Linked DNA regions of Homo sapiens. The protein of the gene in region 3 interacts with the protein of the main gene of each other region in a pairwise test. Each region holds a gene or a part of one and is shown on either strand. Other genes may lie near its edges.

Region 1 (7,857 bases), on a different chromosome or scaffold from region 3:
GTTAGAATACAAGATGACTATAATGTTTATAAGCTGTCGGTAGGAATTTAATTTATAAAACTATATTGTAGATCAGTTCAGCATTATCTAGGAAATTTAAAGATGCAAAACATACTGTATGGCCCAGCAATTCCTTCATACACTTATATCCTGGAAAGGTATGCATATATGCTGGTATACTTGTAAAAACATTTTCACAGCAGCCCTGTCATACAGGAAATAACCAACGTCTGAACTGCAGCTATGTATAGCAGCGAGAGTGAGGCTAACAAATATAGTATTTTATAAGAAAGGCAAGACTCAAAACAACATCATACAGTACAATTTAATTTATATAGTGTTAAAAAGGCAAAACTAAACTATATTGTTTAGGGATAAGCAGATATGTGGTAAAAAACAAAACAAAACAAAACTTTTTTTAAAAAGTCAAGAAGAAAATAACGATTATCAAAGTCAGGATAAGTGTTGCCTAAAGAGGGAGGTAGGATAAGTTTATTCTGGGGAAAGGACTAGCGGGCTTTTCTGGACTGCTGAAGCAAGTTTTTGTTATGCTGAGGGTCTCTTTATAATTACTTCTTAAACTATACATCTATATTTTAACTATTTTTCTGTATTACGTAATATAAAGGGATTAAACAACAACAAAAAAAAAAACAAATATAGGCCAGGAGCAGTGGCTCACACCTGTAAACCCAGCACTTTGGGAGGCCTCACCTGAGGTCAGGAGTTCAAGAACAGCCTGGCCAACATAGTGAAACTCCATCTCTACAAAAATATAAAAATTAGCCAGGCATGATGGCAGGTGCCTGTAATCACAGCTACTCAGGAGGCTGGAGCGGGAGAATTGCTTGAACTCGGGAGGCGGGAGGTTGCAGTGAGCTGAGATCTAGCCATTGCACTCCAGCCTGGGTGCGCTGAGAACGCGCCTCTGCACTCCAGCCTGGGCAACAGAGCGAGACTCCGTCTCAAGAAAAAAAAAGAAAAGAAAAGAAAACCAAATATAAGAACCATACATAATTTTTAGTGAAAATACAAGATATGAAATGGTAAATGTCATAAGATTCCAATCTTGAAAACAATGTATATGTGCATAGGAAACTTACTAGAAGGAAATAGATCAAAATATTACTGGGTTATTTCTGGGTAGTAGATTTGCTGTTTGTAACTCCCTATTTTCTAAATTCTTTGGAATTGTGTGGGTGGGTGTGTGTGAGACAGAGGAGGGGAGAGTGTGTGTGTGTTTAAAAAAACAAAACTTTAGTACACTGGGAAAACTGTTCTATTTTCTAAATTAATAAGTGAACATTTTGTAGAAAGAAGTAACAGACTACTGGGATCTCTGAGTCCACTCCAAGGCTTCTCATCATTTTCTTGAATAGAAACTTGTAAGAACCAGGTCACTTGTTGACTCTATGTTAACCACGACTATCCAGAGAAGAGAAGCAAAAAGGAAACCCAATGCACCTTGTATTTGGTTTGGTCAACAGCCATTCTTCCTCTGGGTAACTCTCTTGACGAGAGCAGAGCTGAAGAAGAAAGGAATGATGAGATGCCAGGCCTTTCTTGTGGCCCAGACTGAGCAGATCAGAGGTCATTTTGGATCTACAGCTACTATCTATGGAGAGAAGAAGGGATGGGGGAGGTCAGAGAAGTGTAGGCGGCCCGGCGTGGTGGCTCACGCCTGTAATCCCAGCACTTTAGGAGGCCAAGGCAGGCGGATCACCTGAGGTGGGGAGGTCGAGACCAGCCTGACCAACACGGAGAAACCCCGTCTCTACTGAAAATACAAAATTAGCAGGGCGTGGTGACACACGCCTGTAATCCCAGCTACTAGGAAGGCTGAGGCAGGAGAATTGCTTGAACCGGGGAGGCGGAGGTTGCGGTGAGCCGAGATTGCGCCATTGCACTCCAGCCTGGGCAACAACAGCGAAACTCCGCCTTAAAACAAAACAAAACAAAAACAGAGAAGTGTAGGCTGTCATGAGCATTCTTGGTATCAGAGGGGTGAGGTCTCTCCTCTCGAGAATCTGTCCTGACCTCACAGGGAGAGCTGGAGTCACAAAGACAGTCACAAGCACCCCCTACCCAATGCTGCAGTCACCCAGCCACCATGGGGACCCACATAGACCTCCACAGGCACGCCTCACCCAAACAATAACACTATATATGGTCACACAATCATTGTCCCACATCTACCTTGAGGATAAGTTACACTAGCATATTTACAGACCCCTCAAACATAGCACCATTCAGAACCAGAGTGCTACAGATAGTCACAATACCACACGCACTACTGAGCCACACAAAGTTACAGTTCCCCCCTCCCCAGGACCCCTATTGAGCACTACACACAATCACACATTCAAAATAACACAATGACCACTAGGACACACATATCACCCCGGCACGATTACACGCACTTTCCAACCGCAGACACAGTGCTACATAAAGTTACATGGTCACACTCTCACATTCTCACGTTACTGGGTTATTTCTGGGTAGTAGATTTACTCAGTAAGGCATCCAGTACACTTAAGTGCTGCTAACAGTCATACAAACACAATTACACACACCCCTCAGACTAACACACAGTCACAGCCTCATCAGATTCTCTCCACACAAACACCCTCCACAAATGTCACGCAAAGTTACACAGCCACACACAATCACAGTCCCAACACGGGACACAGTCATACCTACACATACAGCCTTACATTGTTACAATTACACAACTACAACGAGGATATACAATCACACCCGCGCACACAGAGAGGCACAGTCACATAAGGTCACACTCACACACGGAAGCCCACGCCTCGCGCCCGCCTCCCCACCACCCCCTCTATCAGCCCGACCAACTCATACATGCCCGACACACTCATACATGCCCAACACTCCAGACCAGCCTGGTCAGTCCCTTCAAACTCCCATGCACGTACCTGCGGGCCCCAGCCGAGCCTGCAAGACCCAGGCCGCTCACCGCGCACTTCCCCTACCCTTGAGGCGGAGGGTCCAGCAGGCAAATGAAGGGGCTGCCCTGGACTCGCGGGGGCCTCTGGGAAATACAGTCCGGAGTAGGACCGCGCCGAGAAGATGGCGCCTGTTTTTTCGGGTTCTTGCAGCTGCACAGCTCGGGGACATCCCTGCTCCGCACTCCGAACCGCTACCCCGCGTCTCCGTGATCCAGACACAGGCTCAGAGTGAAACTGCCGTAGGACGCTGGCCCTGCACGCTGAAGACAATCTTCCTCCATGGTACCGGCCAACCCCAGGGAGTTCCCTGAGAAACAGGAAAAGGTCGCCAGCTTCGGGCCAGATGTTGACTAGAGCCGCAAGGATTTTTGGGAACTGTAGTCTAGAGCAGGAAGGGGTGAGGCGCTGGGGCAAGTGGAAGGAGGTCGCTTAAATGACTTCCTGCCCCAAGCCGACTCAGTGCAGAACGCACCCAGGACCCCGGACTGTACTAGGCGTTATAACGCTCTCTGAGAATGCTAGACTGACTAAATCGTCATTTTTGCCTTCATCCGTGGATAAGCCACATACTGTATGACTGCATTTATAGGAAATATTTAAAATAGTCAAATCTACGGAAAAGGAGTAAGTTAGAGTTTTTTAGGACTAGCAGGATTAGGGGGAACTGTGAGTGATTGGTAATAGCTAAAGGGTTCATTTTTGGGGTAATGCAAAGCTTCTTGAATTAGATAATGATGTTTGCACAACTCTGAATACACTAAAAGTGACTGAATGGTACACCATAAACGAGCTAATGTTATAGTTTGTAAATTATATTTGTGTGCATGTTTTTTAAAAATCAACTTTACTGAAGAATAATTTAGATACAATAAAATGCACTCATTTTAAGTGAACTGTTCGGTAAGCTTCAACGCATGTCTAAACCCTTGTCACCACCATCGTAATCAGGATATAGAATATTTTTTAAAATTAAAAAATTTTTAAGCATTTTAGTTAAATTTTTGTGGGTACATAGTAGTTGTATATGGGGTACATGAGATGTTTTGATACAGGCATGCAATGCGTAAGAATCATATCATGTAAAATAGGGTGTCTATCCCCTCAAGCATTTATCCTTAGTGTTACTGGATATAGAATTTTTTTTTTTTTTTTTTTGAGTTGGAGTCTAGCTGTCACCCAGGCTGGACTGCAGTGGCGAGATCTCGGCTCACTGCAAGTTCCGCCTCCCGGGTTCAAGCGATTCTCCTGCCTCAGCCTTCCGAGTAGCTGGTATTACAGGTGCCCGCCACCATGCCTGGCTAATTTTTGTATTTTTAGTAGAGACAGGGTTCGAGCTCACAGGCTGGTCTCGAACTCCCGACCTCGAACTTCTGACTTCGTGATCCGCTCGCCTCGGCCTCCCAAAGTGCTGAGATTACAAGCGTGAGCCACCGCGCCCGGCGGATATAGAATATTTTTATTCACCGCCCTCTGCCCCCCACATTGTTAAGTCAATCCCCACCTCCCAAACCCCACATCAGGCATCTATTGACTATTCTAAGGAATGAGCAGTAGTATCAAATTATGTTTTTAATTTGCATTTCCTGATGTCAATGAACTTAGCATACTTTCATATACTTATTTGCCATTCTTTTATCTTCTTTTGTGACATCTATTGAAAATATTCGGCTGGGCGCAGTGGCTCACGCCTGTAATCCTAGCACTTTGGGAGGCTGAGGCGGGCAGATCACCTGAGGTTGGGAGTTCGAGACCACCCTGACCAACGTGGAGAAACACCGTCTCTACTAAAAATACGAAATTGGCCAGGCGTGGCGGTGCATGCCTGTAATCCCTGCAGGAGAATCACTTGAACCCGGGAGGCAGAGGTTGCTGTGAGCTGAGATCACACTGTTGCACTCCAGCTAGGGCAACAAGAGCAAAACTGCATCTCAAAAAATAATAATAAATAAATAAATAAATAAAATTTTCTTATTTTAAAATTGGTTATTATTGAGTTGTAACAATTCTTTATATGTTTGGGTAAAAGTCCTTTGCCAAATATACATATTGCAAATTGCAAATATTCTCTCCCTGCCTGGGGCTTACCTTCTCAGTTTTTTTTTTTTTTTTTTTTTGAGACAGGGTCTTGCTCTGTTGCCTAGTCTGGAGTGCAGTGGTGTTAACATAGCTCACCACAGCCTTGACCTCCTGGGTTTAGTCGATCCTCCTGAGTAGCTGGGACTGCAGGTGTGCACCACCACCCCCAACTAATTTTCTTGTGTTTTGTGGAGATGGGGTCTCACTGTGTTATTACAGGTGTGAGTCACTGTGCCCAGCCCTCAGTTTCTTCATGATGTCTTTCAAAAAGCAGTTTTTACTTCTGATGAAATCCAATTTCTCATCTTTAAAATGTGCTTCATGCTTTCTGGTCTTTCTAACAATCTTTGACTCCTCTAGTGTTGTGAAGAATTTCTCCTATGTTTTATTCTAAAGGTTGTATAGTTTTAGTTTTTATTTTTGGTCTATCATCCACTTGAAGTTAGTTTTTGTGTATGTGAGGTAATGTTCAAAGTTATTATTTTCCAGATGGAAATTCAGTTGTTCTAACATCACATGTTAACAAAACTATCATTTTCCTCTTGAATGACCTCAACATCTAAAGTAGGCAGGATAATGTTCCCCCCAAAATACCCACATGCTAGTTCCTGGGACTTGTGAATATGCTATGTTACATGGCAAGTGGAATTAAATTAACAGGTAGAATTAAAGTTGCTAATCGGCTGACCTTAACATAGGGGAATTATACTGGATTGTCCAGTTAGACCCAATGTAATCACATGGGGTCTGAAATGAGGAAGAAGGCATAAAGTCAGTGTTGGAATTGTGTGCTGTGAGAAACACACGACCAGCCATTATTGGGTGTAAAGATGAAAGGAGCCCATGAGCTGAGGAATGCAGGCAGCTTCTCCAACTTGGAAAATGAAAAAAAACAAATTCTCCAGAGCCTCCAGAAAGGAATGCAGCTTGCAAACTTTTGATTTTAGAGCAGAAAAAACTCATTTCTTTTTTTTAATTTTTAATTTATTTTTTTAATTTTTATTTATTTATTTTGAGATGGGGTCTCCCTCTGTTGCCCAAGCTGGAGTGCAGTGGTGGGATCTCGGCTCACTGCAACGTCTGCCTCCTGGGTTCAAGTGATTCTCCTGCCTCAGCCTCCCTAGTAGCTGAGATTACAGGCACCCACCACCATGCCCGGCTAATTTTTCTTTCCTTTTTTTTTTTTTTTTTTTTTTTTTTTTTAAGTAGAGACAGGGTTTCATCATGTTGGCTAGGCTGGTCTTGAACTCCTGACCTCAAGTGATCTGCCTGCCTTGGCCTCCCGAAGTACTGGGATTACAGGTGTGAGCCACTGCACCCAGCATTTTTTTTTTTTTTTTTTTTTTTTAGAGACAAGGTCTTGCTCTGTCTCCCAGGCTGGAATGCAGAGGTATGATCACAGCTCACTGCAGCCTCATACTCCTGGACTTAAGCATCCTTCCGCCTAGGCCTTCTGAGTAGCTGGGACTATTGGTGTACACCACCACACCTGGCTAATTGAAAAAAAAATTTATAGAGAGAGGGTTTAGTTATGTTGCCCAGTCTAGTTTCAAACTCCGGGCCTCAAGTAATCCTCCCACCGAGGCCTCCCAAAGTGCTGGGATTACAGGCATGAGCCACCACAACAGCTGTGTCATCCCAACCCCTCTCTGGGCTTGATCACATAAAGAAGGCTTGCATTCCTCAGATAAAAGCCATTTATTTTCTTTTTCAACACTATGCGGAGTGAGATAAGCCAGACCAAAAGGACAAATATTGTATGAATCCACTTATATGAGGTGCCTAGAATAGGTGTATTCATAGAGACAGAAAGTAGAATTGAAGTTACATGAAGTTATATGAGGTACATGATAAAGCCTCTATACTTAAAACAGTGTGCTATTTGTGTGTGGTTAGAGAGACAGACAAAGGGAGGAGGATGGGAAATGGAGAAATAAACATCCATGGCCGGGCGCGGTGGCTCACGCCCAGCCCTTTGGGTGGCCGAGGTGGGTGGATCACCTGAGGTCAGGAGTTCGAGACCAGCCTGGCCAACATGATGAAACCCCATCTCTACTAAAAATACAAAAAATAAGCTGGGCATGGTGGCATGCGCCTGTCATCCCAGCTACTCAGGAGGCTGAGGCAGGAGAATTGCTTGAACCTGGGAGGCGGAGGTTGCAGTGAGCCGAGATTAAGCCACTGCACTCCAGCCTGGGCAACAGGAGCAAAACTCCGTCTCAAAAAAAGAAAGAAAGAAAGAAATTAACATCCCGGCCAGGCACGGTGGCTCACACCTGTAATCCCAGCACTTTGGGAGGCCAAGGCGGGTGAATCATGAGGTGAAGAGATCGAGACCATCCTGGCCAACATGATGAAACCCCGTCTCTACTAAAAATACAAAAATTAGCTGGGTGTGGTGGCACGCGCCTGTAGTCCCAGCTACTCGGGAGGCTGAGGCAGGAGAATCGCTTGAACCTGGGAGGCAGAGGTTGCAGTGAGCTGAGATTGTGCCACTGCGCTACAGCCTGGTGACAGAGTGAGACTTCATCTCAAAAAAAAAAGAAATTAACATCCACATAGATGCTTAGTATTTGATAAAGGTAGCAGCTCAAATCACCACAGTCACATCATAAAGTTTTATGCAGCCCATACACACACAGCAGAAAAAAAAAAAAACGAAGCTCTCTACGGAATGACATTAACTCTGGAATATATAAAAAATGGAAAGTATAGAACAGTGTAACATATAGTTCGTCTAAAAAAGAAAAGGAAATTAGATTAGATATAAGCATTTGTTTATATTCACTAAAAAAAGAAAAGATAGGAA
Region 2 (6,940 bases), on a different chromosome or scaffold from region 3:
GAGAGAATGGGTCTACTCTTCATGCTTGAAGCAACACCCTACACAGCCCTACAAGTCACCTCCTCAGTTCTGTACTGGGGTATGAAAAAGCCTCAGACCTGCTCATGCTCTGTCCACTTCACTTCATTTCAAATGTGACGCCATAAAACCGGCAGGGGGCAGGGACTGTTGGGTGTTGTGTAGTGTTAACTGTCAATGCTATCCTTGATGCCAGTAACGAAGCATCAGAATAACACTAGTAACAACAATAACAGTGATTCTTTCACTCCTGACACCTTTCCTAAAGGACAAGTCATCATGTCTCTAAATGAAAAAAATTAAAAAAAAAAAAGTGCTCACTCCCACACTTTACATTACCATGACTAATGAAGGTCCATCTTCCTGTCCCCTGGCTCCATATCTACCAAAAGTAGGGGCTGGATGCAGAAAGAAAAAATTAAACATATAATTTAAAATTGAAGACAGTTATTTCCTTGGTTCCGTAAGTCTGGATTTTTATAAGCTGTATGAACTCATTTGACCAGAGAGTCATCAGCTAGAAATAAGTTCGGACCACTGCTAGGCTTGGTTTTGATTTTACTCAGACACCTAGAAGATGAAAAACCATCCCAGTTCTTAAAACAATCCACTGATTTTTGACCATTGTCCTTTAAAGTTGCCCTTTAGATATGGAGGCAAACCAAGCCTCCGTCTCTCCAGTCTCAACCTTCTCCTATAGCACTGTTTTCTGTCCTGAACTGATCAAAATCAAATAGGGAAGAAGTAATCCAGTTGAAAAGAGATCTGATAATGCTTGTTGATGTCTCATTAACCTTGAGAGTGACTGTAACTGGTGACTGCCTGTCACAGTGGTGTGATGGTTTGTGGGTGGGGGGGGAAAGGCAATGGAAACGTCACCTTGAAAAAACACAAAAAGAGAAATATCATTTAGTAGATCATCAATCAAAAGACGGGGCATTTCCAACTGTCAGAACTGGTTAAATTACAGTTTCCTTATGCCCATGATGAATCTACTATGTGTTTTCGTGGGAAAGCTTTTGGAGCAGTATTTATCTGTGTCCCAAAATATAGTCACTAAAGTATTGAGAGAAAAAAGAAAACCACTTTGATGCTGGAAGTCTAATCATGAGAAAAACAAACATCTCGGGATTAATGTTATTAAGGTTCTGTGATGAGTAAATGTGTGATGTGTGCCATTAAAAATATCATGAGCCACTCCATGTGGGAAGATCCTAATTCCATTGAGCCCCTAGTCAGATTCCCCTCATTACTAATTGCTAATTGATAACATGTCAACAAACGGACATAGGAAAATAATGAAAATTAGCTTGTCTCTAGGGATAAACTATTACCTGTAGAGGAAAAGAAGAGGAAAGAGTTCCCCAGGTTTCCCGGCAGACTCCCCTTGGGATAAGTAGACTAGAAATCTAACCAGCCTCTAGTACCAGATCTGGACTAGAGACTCACACAAAACGATCACCTTCCATCCCTCTGCACCAGAGTCCCAGCTGGGACTGGTTCTTGTCTGCCCTCCCCAAAGGAGAACCTTAAGTAAACAAGCCCCACAGTCCCCATCAGGGATTCAGATGGAACATTCTCACCTATTTTTACTTTTCTCTCCCGAGGTCTCCACTTTTCCATCTCTAGTCCTCACTCCTCTGCTTTTCTTAGGAAGTTCCTGAAAGTTACCACCATTAACCTCACTTTCCACATCAAATTCCCACCTCAAGCTGATGGCACAACCGGTTTCTGCGAGTGTCACCCTCTAACCAGCTGCTCGGTTTCCTGTGCTCTTCTCGGGGTCACACAGCCTGGCTTCTGTTCTCACCCTTCGGGCTCTGCCCCTCACCCCCATGCTCAGATGCACCCAAATAAAAGTGGATTGATCGGTTCCCTCTTTTCCCAAAGTTTTGGCATTTCTTGAGGAGCTACTGTGAAAGACGAAGGAACTGCGAATTACAAACATAATTTCATACCCTAGAAGATAGAGATGGCTACCTCGCTCCGGAGAAGAGAGCAGCAGGGCAGCCCCCTGTCCTCGCCAGAGACCACACTTCTTTCTGGGTGGGTGGGAGGCATCTTCATCACCATCCCGCCTCACATTCTTTTGTCCTTTCCCAACATCCCACACCAACAACCGTTCCCCAAACACTCCGGGGGGCCAGAAAAAGGGAGAAACAAAACTGAGGACAGGGAGGGGTATCTCGGAATCCCCTCCAAGCATAGTATTTTGTTCTCAAGTAGTAGGACTTTCCAGAATGTCTTCTCTCGTTCTGCTCCTTGCTGGCCCAGTTACCCCAAAGCCTCCCCACCCCCAAGCCCACTGCGACCAAAACAAGCGCACCGACCACAGCACTGTGGCCGCCGCCGCCCCAACTGTTGCAGCAGCTGCGGGGTGGCGGTAGAGGCGACGCGGGCAGGGCCGGACCCGGACCCCGACGCTCCTTGTCCAGGAGGCTGGGAGGCTCCAGTCGGCCGCCCTGGGGCGCGCGGTGCAGGAGAGTCCCTGCGGCAGCTGCCTGGGCTAGGAGAGGTGGCGCTCTCAGCCGGGACCCCAGCGCAGAGCCAGCCCGACCGCGGCCGCGGCGCTGGCGGAGTCTGCCCGCACCCGTCCCCTCTCACCTTTAAGATCAGGTCGGTGTGATGCTGGTCCAGCATGTTGGCTTTCTGGAAGGAGGTGACGATGACCCGGCCGTAGCGCCCGGGGGTCTGCAGGTCCGAGTAGAGACGGTGCTTGGAGCGGTTGACCGGGAAGAGGCTGTTAACGAGGTTGCGCTCGATCTTGGCCAGGCTGTGCTGGGGCGCCAGCAGGTGCTCCACGCTCTCCTCGACCTGGTAGCGGCTGAAGCTGGCGCCGAGCAGGATGGAGATGAGCACCGGCGCCGAGGCGAAGAAGACAGGGTGACTGGCAATGAAGTGGCCGAGCCGGGAGAAACACGTCCTCAAGCCCCTGTGCAGAACCTGCCGCAGCATCCTAGAGCAGAGCGGGCGCGGGAGGAGGGCGAGGCGCACGCTCGGCGCGGGTTCGGGCGGCGGCGGCGGCGGCGGCGGCGGCGGCGGCAGCGGCGCCCGCGGCGGCGGCGACGGCGGCGGCGGCGAGACCCTGAGCTCTCCCGGAGCCGCGGCACCACCATCGGGGAGTCCCGCGCCGCGCCTCGGGAGGGTCCCCTCGAGCCGGAGACACGCCCTCCTGCCCGCGGCCGCGCCCTCCCGGAGAGCCCCCCAGCTTGGCGGCCTCTGCGCCGCCCCCACTCCGCCCTACCGCGTGCGCCCTCCCCACCCCCCGCGGCCTCCCCGCCAGGGGGGCTCCGCGCCGCGCGGCCGCGTCCCCTCTCAGCGCGGGCGGGGCCCGGGGCAGCCCCCGCGGCTCGTCATGACCCCACTCACCCGACCCCCAAGGCCAACGACGGGGTGGCGCGGGGAGCGGCGACGGCGCTATCGCCAGGAGACTCTGCGCGCCCGCCCAGGAACACGAGGACGGAGAATTCCAGGCTACACCCAGTCCCCTCCCCTCCCTTCGCTCCCCTCCCCCGGTCCGGCCCGCCAAGCTCGCTCTCCCCTTCTCTGCCCTCCTCCGGGAAGACCCAGAGATAAATAAAGAAATGGCCCCGATTTTCCAAACAAAAAGTAAAGAGTTCTCAGGAGTGGGGGGAGGGGGCGGGTGTCGGGCGGACCCGCTCAGAGCCGAGTCTCTCCAGAGGCTTAAAGGAGCAGGCTGAAGACTGCGTGCGTCCCGGCTCTCGCCAGGCTCAGGTGGTGGCGCGCACTGGCTGGTGCCGAGAGGGGGTGGGGAGCGAAGACGCTCGAACGTGGAAATCACGCCTCCTTCCAAATAAGAACCGTTTAAAATACCCCCAACACTGCAGCTTCGGCGGGACCACGGGGTCCGGGTGTGTGTCTGGAGCACGTCCACTCAAAAGGTATCCGTGGAGAATCTTTCTCTGTGGCTCTAATTTAGGGTCGCTCCAGAGTGGATTGGGGCTGGCCAGCTCTGTTGCACACCCCCCAACCTCCCACCCAGTCCTTTAGTAATAAAAGTGCTGATAATGACGGTCAGTCGATGGAACTGTCCGTCGCCTGGGCTCCCGGGCTCCCGAGCTCCGGGGCTCCCCGGCTCCCGGTTCTTCGCCCTGCCTTCTCTTCCTCCTCCTCTCTCTGTCGTCACCAGCAGGTCTGGGGGACCTGGTGCGGCGTGGCTGGCGCGGGCGCCCCTGCGGGCGTAGAGTGTTTGAGAAAGGCTGGCCAGGGAGTCAGTAGCATTAACCCCCTTCTCTGCCTCACTCCGCCCTCTCCTCCCCTACATGCGAAGGTGTGAGAGTGGAGGGAACCTTATCTCAGAGCAGGAGAGATACAGGTCTCCGAGCGTGTTGAGCCGCAGGGGGCGCGGGGGAGCCCGCGGGGCGCCGACGGCTTGGCAAAGTTGGGCGTGTGCGTGTGCGCGCCAGCCGTGAGCTAGCAGGCAGTCACCGTGGTTCCCCTCGCACTCCCCCTCCGGAGAATTCCCCGAGAAGGCGGGCGCCGGCTTCGGCCCCGGGATAGACCTGCGGCGGCGGCGGGAACGGCCACGCACAGGTACAATTTAGCGCGTTTCATTTCGCGCTCCAAGCTCCTGGGTCTGTCCACTGCAACGCAGACCGAGCGGGATCTCGGAGTCTGGGTCACTGAGGCGCTCTCTCCAGCCAGGGGGGTGGGATACAGGGCGCGGCGAGGGGTCCTCAGACTCCGCGCTCTGAGCGCTCAGCCTCCCCATCCCAAGCCTTTGGTCGCTACAGCTCAGTCTCCCAGTGCCAGGGGTCGAACGGGAGGCGGTGGCCCGCACTACGGAGCATAGACATGCATATTAATCAAAGCTGAAGGAAGACGAATAGGGACAGGAAGAGGAAGGGGAGTGGGGGGGGGGGAAGAAAGAGGAGAATGGGTAGGAGAATGCGCCTCGGGGAGGCATTTCCCTAACGTTCCCATTCCAGACTCCCCTACACCTAGCGGCCCTTCACTTCTCAAACTGAACTTGGGAACTTGCACGTTGGAAACAGCAAGTCGCGGTTTGGGAAATCCTCCTTATTTGATGATCTCCTCCCTTCCCCCATACCGGACTTCCTTCCTACCTTTCCTCAGCAACACCTGCTCCTGCTGCGCTGCCCACCCCGGGGGCGCACCTGCCCTGCTCTGCTTGTGCTCCCTAGATCCTTCCACCCATTTCTCGTCCACTTTCTGTGCTCATCTTCGTTATTCCCTACACTGCTCTGTTTCCAGAGGCTCCCCGCGACGCCTAAGTCCAGCAGCTTCCAGCTGACTCCCCTCCCCCAGTATCGCCGTCCCTGGGAGGGACACATTGGAAGGGGCTAGAAATTCCCCTGCCACACTCCACTCGTGCCGTTCCCCCAGCATCTTAATTTCTGCTCGTGGAGGTGCCGCTGCTCTGCAGCGCTTTGCTGATTCACCATGATCGCGGAGGGAAAAGCCTCATTGACTTGTGCCCCTGCAAGCGGCGAGGCGAGCGCGAGTGGCTGCGAGGGCACGCGCTTTGGGAAACCACCCACCATTGCGTAGCCGAGGTGCTAAATGACAGGGTGGATGCCCTGCGTGGCTCTCAGCCCGGGCAGACGGAAAGATGGAAGGGCGGGGAGGAGGGGTGGCGGTGGGAAATACTGCGAACCCAGCTCTTTGCGACTGAGCCAGCGGCAGCTAGTGGGTGGGCACTTCTCAGGAGGCCTAAAATCGGTCGCTGCACAGGGAATGAACAGAGCTGTTTCATGTGCCCCGATGCCAGCGCAGGGATAAAAGTAAGAGAAGGAAAACCAGCCGACAGGTCTGCTTAGGTGCCTTTAACATTTTGGCGAAGCTGTTTTCATTCTGAAGTCTTTGACCCTCCGATTGGCTCCCTTCCAACCTCGGTTCGCCCTCGTCCCTAGAATTTCCGGCCTTTTAATGTCAGCCCTCACAAGGGCTGAAGAACAGAGTGCCCTCCCTCAGTGCCTGGGCTGAATCTTAGAGCGGGAGAAACTGCATTGCTCAGCTGGCCAGGGCGAGAGTGTTGTCCTCCCACACAGAAAAGGCCTTTCCTTTGGGACCAAGGCATTTGTTTCTAGTCCTCCCAACTCTATTCCTAACTGTCCTTATGTATATTTGGAGGAGCTTCTAACCTGTATGTTTCAATTTGGAGACAGAACCAACTAAGTGTGGACCTTGGGCCACCTTTTACTGCAGGCAATCCCGTTAGTGTTGTCTAAATTGAATTGGAGCAGCAGAGAGAGTGAGAGTGAGGAGAGAGGAAAGAGAGAGGAGAGAGAGGGGGAAGAGAGAGGCGAAAGAGAGGGGAGAGAGAGAGGGGCGAGAGAGAGGGGCGAGAGAGAAAGAGAGCCCACACGTAAGAGTGCAGGAAGGGTGTTGCCTCCCCCCGATTTTTCTTCTCTTTTTGTAGAAGTTCTGGGGAGCATTGCCTCCACCAACGACTTGGGTTTGCATTTGGGCCAATGACTTTGTGATCAGAGCTTTCACCAGTACGTTAATAAATTGTTACCTTTTCTGATTTAAAATTAATACATATTAATTTTAGACAATTTGGAAAGTAAGAACAAGAAAAAGAAGGAAACAAAAACACCTGTATCGGTGTACTCACACTACCTTTCAACCTTTGTCGATCATTTATTGTACACATAGGCAATATAATGTAGAAGTTGAGGCTTTTGGTTCTGTAGCCACTGAGTTGAATCCTTGCTCCACTATTTATTAGCTAAAATGCAGTGGGTAACTTTACTTTTTTATGGCACAATTTTTCTCTTCTGAAAAATGGGAATAACAATAGTACCAACCCCATAGAATTGCTATGAGGATTAAATAGATTAACACACTTAAAACAGTGCCTGAAATATCACAGACATATAATAAATGATATTTGTTATAATCTTATTCTATACATAAGTGTGAAAAGAAAAGCATT
Region 3 (7,739 bases):
GCCAGTACAGGAGGGGGGAAAGGAAGAAATGCTCAAGAAACCCCAAAGCGAGGCAAAAATACAAAGGATGCCAGATAGCCTCCCCCATCCCTACTCCAGGCGAGTACCCACCGTGGCATGATGCAGAAAGGTCTCCTGCATCAGATCTGCCATCCTACTTGTAGCCCACAGTTCCCATCTTCTTGTGAAGAAAATCGACGCTGCTGCGGCTCCCCAGCCCCACTGGCTTCTGCAGCGTGAGGCTGAGATGCATTGGGCTCTCAATGCCAGTGCCTCGCGGCGCCTGGGCTAGAGCTTTGTGGCCATGAGACTAGAGCCACCCCAGAAAAAGGAACAAATACACACACCATTCGATAGCGCCTAAACCCATCTTTCTTTGTTGTTCATCTTCTAGCTGCGGCTTTATTTGTGGAAGAGGGAAGTGAGGAAGGGAATGGGGGGGCGGGGAGGAGGAATCTCCAGGACCTTATCTACAATCTCAACAGTCGCGGCAACGATCTCTGGGAGTGATCGAGGCATTCGGGCTGCCCCGTGCCTCCCGGGCAGCGATCTAACGATAAAACCTGACAGTGTCCTGGGGAAAACCCCACATCCACCGCTAGCGCTACATTCGGGCTTTATGCCAATAAGGAGACACTGTAGACTATCGATCAGACTCGTCTGCTCTCAGAGCGTGCGGCCGGGCTTCCAGCCTGGCCTTTAGGCGCGGTGGCGGCGGTGGGACACGCGCCAGGCGCCCAGAGAAGGACATGGGACAATGGCCCAGCCCGAGGACGCCAGACGCCGCCGCCCGACCCGGGGAAGGAAGCTCCTGCAGCCGGTCCGGGAACCCGAGGCGGGGAGGGAGGCCAGCTCTGGAGGTGCGCTGCCGCTTTAAAATAAAGGACCACAAAGACTGTACAGTGGGGAAAACGCGCCTGGCTAATGCGAGTGGGGACGACTTGGGGAGGGGGTTGAGGAAGGTAGGGGGCACACGAGCCAACGGCGGCTCACGGCTCCCCCTCTCTCCCGCCTCTCTCCTTCCTCCCTCCCCGCCGGGCTGCTCCGGCAGACAAATAACAGAGGAAGGCGAGTCACTCACCGTGGTCTTGACAGGCACGTAGAGCACTTGCTTGGCGCCGCCGCCTCCCCCGCGGACCTCGTCCGGCTGGCCCAGCTGGAAGCCCTTCGATTTGACCCAGAATTTAAATTTGGCGTTGTCCGTGGAGCTCGACTCGGAGCCATTGAGGAGCTGGACGATCCGTTCGTATTTTTTACGGGTCACCGTCTTGGTCTTGCCTGAGTCCCCGTAAGTCCTGAGGCACCAGTCCTGGAACTGGCGGTACATGTCGCGCTCGCTCTCCATGTTCCCCGCGCTCGGCCGCTGGCCGGATGCTCCCAGCGCACTTCGCACCTGTTCACCCTAGGCTCATGAAAAATGCAGCCCCGGCCACGTTGCAGGGATGCGAGGTCCCGGCCGCAGCGGGAGCCTGCTTTGGGTGGGGGAAGGGATGGGAAGAGGGGAGGAGGGTCCGGTTGGGCACCAGCAATCAATGCCCCGTGCTACCAAGTCTGGTCCATTCGTAATTGCAACGGCTGTCTCGGACGTTTTTCCTGTTCCCTTAGCGGTCGGTCTCTTTAATATTTTGTGACCAGGACCATCCCAACACCATTCTGGCCCAGAGGAGCTGGGTTTTCAATAATTAAAATCCCATTCCTTGGTTTATTAAAAATCCCAATATTGAATTGGGGTGGTCCCTAGACGCCTCGCCCCCGGGCTGCGTCCGGGGCTGGGCAGGTGGAGCGCAGCGCCGCCTCCCCGCGCGCGCCCCAGAAGCTTCCCCAGCCACTGGCCCCGTGGTCCAGGAGTGAGGGCTGCGCCTCTCCCGAAAGCAGCCGCCCGCCCAGCGCCTTTGAGCCCCGAAGGGCACACGGGTCCCGGATCTCTCCTTCCTCCTGGGTCCTGCTTTGACCTTCCCCACGACGGGTGTTAAGGGACTAGAAAGAGAAAGTTCTTACCTGTCATGTTTTTAAACCTATCAAATTCTGTTTTACAGAATTTTTTATCAAGATATTTTTTAAAACGGTTTAAAATGTCATTTCTTCAGATGCATTTTGAATAAATTCCAGCCCTGTATGTAGATTCTACGAGTTAAGTCCCAGAAATTAGCAAAGCATTGATGGAGATTTGGCCATAGTTCTACAGGATAGATTGTAGTGCCCCAAACAGATATCCGTTCCAGGGGGATGTGGGTAACCGAAGGCAGGCCGCTGGCGGCGGGTATCCCGAATAATGATGGGACCCCCAGACAGGACTCCTCTGGTTTCTGCTGAACAAGACATAGAAGTAAGTTTAGGATACAGATGCTTGAAAACCTTTGCACGAAATTAAAATATATACAGAAAGATCATTTTCCCCTTGCTTGGTCACAGTTTGCAGTTCACACGGGAGGTTTCAGTTGTCTATTTTCCCCCTGCCACGTCATGGACACCCCCTCCACTGCTCTGAGTAGCCAAATATGAGTTCCTCTGGACTATTTTTCCAAGCAGATGAAGTCAGCAGTTGCTCCATTCAGGACTTCCATCCATTTGTTTCCAGAGCTGGAAATAGGGGAGTTCCCATCCTCCTCGCGCGGCGGCTGCGGCCGCTCCTCTTTATTCTACTCTCACCCGAGGCCCGCGCCCGTCCCGGGGAGCGGCTCTGCCAGGAAAACGGCCCGACCAGTGCCCGGCGCCTGGGCTGCGTCCGAGCCCACCTTCTTCCCTCGTCGTCGTCTCCCAGACTAAATCCCGGAAAGGGAAAGCGGGATGTTTGCGCCCACCGCGCTGTAGCTGGTCCTGACACTTGCAAAATGGTCAGTGGCTCCTGCTCGGCCAGGCTGAGTGTGTGCGTGTGTGTGAGCAAGGGAGCGAGGGTGTGCGGTGTGCAGGGGGTGCGCTGTGTGTGCGCGCGTCTCCGGGAAGGTCTCGCGGCGGCTGGAGCCGGGACTGACAGCCCGGGCGGAGCGCAGGCAGCTCCACACGCTAAACCTCTCGCCTCTCCCCTCACCCCCACCCCTCCCACTCCCCTCTCCTTCCCCCACCCTCCCCGGCCCCTTCCAAGCTCTCTGATTGGCCAATGGGACAAAAGTTTCTGTGGAGACGGCTGGGCGCTGACGTCACGGGCAGAATTGTCCCATTTAGGGATCCCGGGGGCAGTGCGCATGCTGCAGGCTGCAGGTTAGAGGCAGAAGGAGGTAGCAGCGGGCCCGGCGGCAGCCAGGTGGCAGAAAGGAGCACGCAGCATCCAGGTGGGGGGACGACTCCAGCAGGGTTTCCATGGAGATTCCTCTGGGTCTAGCCTAAAAACAGCAGATCAGCTGACACCATTAGCTCAGGACCTAATTACTGCTTATTGGAGCAACAAATGAGGGAAAGGGCCAGCTGCAAAGGAAGAGTTTTTATCCCCCCACCCCATTCCCCCATCTCCTTTCTCCCCCTCTCTCCATCCCTCTTGAGTCCCGGGTGAATTCTCATTAACTTGCAAGATTCCTGCAACAACAGCTCCCCTTCTCCAGAGGCCACCCCGACTGCTTTTATTCTTTTATTTCCTTCTTTTGTATTAAAAAGAAATGCTAAAATAAATCAGTTGTTGAGTCCTTGAATTTTTGTTCAATACGTATTAGACCATAGAGCTCAGAGAAGACACTGTCCAATGAAGTCACAAGTGAATCTAATACAAGGGACTCAGGGGAAAAATATCACTTTCAATTTATTGAGGTGAATCTTTAGATATTTCACATTAAAAAAATCTTAATATCTTAAATACATAAATATTTGAAACACGCAATTGGACAGAAGATATCCTGAACCACCCTTCTAGTGGGGTATACTTCACAGGAGCAACTCTGTTAAGTTTCCCTTTGTGGCATCAGAGCTCAATTTAGTTAGATATTGGTCATGTGTTTCCTGGAAGTTTCTGGAAAGATAATTGGTCCTGGGGTAGTCATTCAAGAATAAGCTGGTTCTATAGAATTCACTTTCTCATATGGTTATAGTTCACAATTATAGAACTATTTTATGCAGCTTTTCATCTAAAAAGGCATCCCATCCCCTCTAAGCTTTATTTATGTACTTTCAGCCTCCAAAAACCTTCCTTAATCATTCAACTTAATATTAACTTTCTTCTATAATCATCTGTATTGTGTCTTTCAAACATTTTTTAGCCCTGTCTTGTAGTAAGCCATACACTTTACATTGACATGTAGTGCATACATACATTTGTTCTGCAAAAATTTTATGAAAACATCTATTTTATTACCTGCAATATACACTGATATTTGCCTTTTTCTCTCCTGTTGATTTTGTTATTATTATTTGGTAAAGTATAGTCCCAACCAAAAAAATTTATTTTATGACCCAGCAAAGAATGACTGGCAACCTACAATTTGAAAAATATTGTTTTAGATCATAATGACTACACTGCTCCTTTTACCTTATTTATATTTTCATATGAGTATGTTTTGTTGGTCAAATAAAATCTTAATTGGAAAACCCTTGAAAGTTTATGTCTTTTTTCTTGTTTTGTGCAATGAACAATGTGCACAGTAAGTGCTTAATAAATTGAGTTAATAAATTAATGAAAGAAGGAGAACAAGAGTAAGGGAAGGAAGGAAGAAGGTAGGCATAATCTTTGTCCATTCTTGTTGGCTTTTGCTGGGTAGTGTTTGGTTGAAGTTGGTCCCCCGTCTTAAGGAAATGACAGGGCTTTACCACACACACATGTGTTCATTGTATTTATAACTATACTTGACACCCTAATGCATAGCAACTAGAACACCCTAGACATACAGAACTCCCAGAAGATAAATATGTCATCAACCCCCACTTGTATTCACTAGATTTGATATACAAGCACAAAAACCCCACAAAATGAAATAGATTATATGAAATACATTCTTTTTAAGAAGAAAAGGTAAATGATTAACTACTGAAAGACTGTTTGCATTGGAGGAAAGGAATACAGGGTTCAAAGATTTCAAGGGTCCTAAGTCTCAGAGCCCTGCAGATTCTCTTGTTTTCAGTGGAACCCAAAGTGTAATATGCTCTGTACTTGCACCCATTATTAGTTGTGCTGGCTGAGCCAACACCTTCAACCATATCTTGTCCACCTAGGAAGGTAGGCACCTAACAAAAATCTAAAATCTGCTTCAGCAACTTACTCTGGACTAATTTTCCTTCTTTGAACTTCTCTAGAGTCAGGTCTGACCAGCCCCATCTCAGGGTCATCCTGAGCTGCTTCCTCAGCTATATGGTTCATGTGAACAGGCTGCCTGGGATTTAACCTGGTATGTTCCCAGGACACTTTCCTCAGAATTGCCTGGCTACAAAGCATATCTCTCCGAAATGTTTTTCTTCACCCCTTCTGAATGCCAATCCCCAATCTGGGCCCAGGGGTCCTGTCTGCCTGGCAGGCAGAGGAAGAAAAGAGAGGAAGAGGAAGGCAAAAAGGTATGTGAAACTTATATTTTAATTTAAAATAATCCAAAACGTGGGCTATCATCAATATGATTTTTGTTATAGAAGTAAAATTTCTTCCAACTTCATGGTCAGTTTGTAAATGACATTTTAAAAATCCAGAAAATCTTGCACTTTATTATCAATCACAAATATTTACACAACACTATGTGTTCATCAGCAAAATGTTAGAGTACAAACAACATAGAATCTGTAATCAGAAAATCCATGTTCAAAGAATAAACAAGCTTTCATTCCTTCAAATAATTGTGGTTTTTATTAAACAAATATTAACCAAGCTTCAGTTACTCTCACAGGTTCTAGGGTTAACGTCCTCAGCAAGACAGATGTATATGCATGGTTCCCATCTCATGGAACATAAATTCTTCTAAGGACAGCAGACAACAAAGCAAGAAATAAATAATTAGAGCTTTATGTAAGTGCTGGGAGGGGGAAAAATAGCAGCATAAGAGAAAACAGTGACAAGGTAGAGAGACTTGATGAGCTTAGGGAAGATCTTTCTGAGTAGGTAACATTTATCATGAGACCTGAAGATTCAAAGGAGTCAATTATGTGAAGCCAGGAAGGTGAACTATAGGCAAAGCGCAAAGGTCCTAACGTAAAAGAACTCTTGGCATGTTTGAGGAATAGAAAGAAGGCCAAGGCAACTGGAGCTTGAAAGAGAAAGGTAGAACGTGAGATCTGAGTAGACTTCTGCAGCCAGATCTTGTAGGGCATTGCTTACATTTTATTGATAAGTGCTTATATTTTATTGGTCCAGTGGAAAACCAGTAAGATATCTCAGGCAGGAGAATTATATGATATGATATGCATTTTTATTAGTGTCACTGGCCACTTTGAGGAGAAAGGATTGGAAAGGGACAAGCATGAAAGCAGGAAGACCAGCTAGAAAAAATGGTGATAGTTGAAGTAGTAGCTTAGATGAACTATTACGGCGATAGATTAGAGTATTAACAGAGGAGGTAGAGGGAGAGAAGTGATGGGTTGAAGATACAGTTTAAAGAAAGAATAGAGCTTCCTGAATGTGTATCTCCTCCACCCCCCTGCCCCCACCCCACAATCCATATGTTGAAATCCTAACCCCCAAGGTGATGGTATTAGGAAGTGGCACCTTTGGGAGCTGATTAGGTAATGAAAGGAGAGCTGGTCATGAATGGAATTGGTGCCTTCATGAAAGAGGCCTCACAGAGCTCCTCTGCCACTTCCTCCATGTGAGGACGCTGAAAAGATGGCCATCTATGAAGAGGAGTCTCACTAGACATCACATCTGCCAGCATCTTAATCTTGGACTTTCCAGCCTCCAGACCTGTGAGAAATAAATTCCTGTTGTTTATAAGCCACCCAGCCTATGGTAGTTTGTTATAGCAGCCCTAGTGAACTAATACACTGATGGACTGCATGTATCAGATGAGAGAAACGATTGAATCAAAGACGACTACATGGTTTCTGGCTTTAGTAGTGAGGCTAGTGAAGCCATTGACTTACAGAGAAATGTTTGGGGGAGGAACAGATTGGGAGTTGGAGGCTGAGGGAGGAGCAGAAGCAAGTTGGGGTGGAGAGGCAGGAAGAAAGAATTTAATTTCAGAGAAGTTAAATTTGAAATACCAGGAGAGTTGTTCATGTAGGAATTGAATATAGAAGCTTGAACTACAGAGAAAAGTCTGGATTGGAGATATAAATACAGGGAATTTAAAGCCATAGGAATGAATGACATCACCTTTGTCCACATTTCCTACAAAAAGGGAAAGCCCCCATCTTTTGATATTGAGTTTGTATATACTAATACCTTATGACTAAAATAGAATGTCATGTACTGAGCAGCAGAAGTTGGCTTCTATTGATATAATACTGGTATTGGGAAAAACCTGAGAAAAATAGCAAAGCAGTTTGGATGAATCCTTGACTAGACCTAAACTGTTAGTAATTTCCAAATTTACATGGACTTAAAATCATTTAAAACTTAAAAGTGAAGCTGTGAAAGCTTTGGTTAGACCTATTCTGGATTAGATCAGGACCTGGAGGCACGCTAAAATAGGAATCAAATTTTAGGATGTCCTATGATCACATTTCCCATTGAAGGGGTTGACTAGAGACTTGTCTACTGAGTTAAGTTCATAAAAGAATTTGAGCCTTTTAGCTAGATTAGAGATTATGGAGCATGGTACTTGCTACTTTGAAAGCTGAGGTTCTGAACGTTATTATGCATTCAGAGGGTTAAAAGTCTATTAATAATCCCGTCAAGG

What was found. Proteins that work in one complex are often made in the same cells at the same time.
Region 1: the proteins of NOL4 (region 3) and ZNF383 interact in binary tests that used the Homo sapiens proteins (3 or more experiments, as listed by UniProt).
Region 2: the proteins of NOL4 (region 3) and PTCHD1 interact in a two-hybrid assay, tested with the Homo sapiens proteins (one study listed by BioGRID and IntAct).

Annotation. Positions count from the first base shown.
Region 1 is NC_000019.10:37,213,357-37,221,213, reverse strand, and holds the start of ZNF383 (zinc finger protein 383), read right to left. Parts: upstream 3,001-7,857; 5' UTR 2,940-3,000; exon of another isoform or gene 1,724-2,939; intron 1,616-1,723; exon of another isoform or gene 1,465-1,615; intron 1-1,464.
Region 2 is NC_000023.11:23,330,909-23,337,848, reverse strand, and holds the start of PTCHD1 (patched domain-containing protein 1), read right to left. Parts: upstream 3,001-6,940; 5' UTR 2,974-3,000; coding exon 2,623-2,973; intron 1-2,622. UniProt on the Homo sapiens protein: Required for the development and function of the thalamic reticular nucleus (TRN), a part of the thalamus that is critical for thalamocortical transmission, generation of sleep rhythms, sensorimotor processing and attention. Can bind cholesterol in vitro.
Region 3 is NC_000018.10:34,221,909-34,229,647, forward strand, and holds the start of NOL4 (nucleolar protein 4), read right to left. Parts: upstream 3,006-7,739; 5' UTR 1,346-3,005; coding exon 1,082-1,345; intron 563-1,081; exon of another isoform or gene 154-562; coding exon of another isoform or gene 112-153; intron 1-111.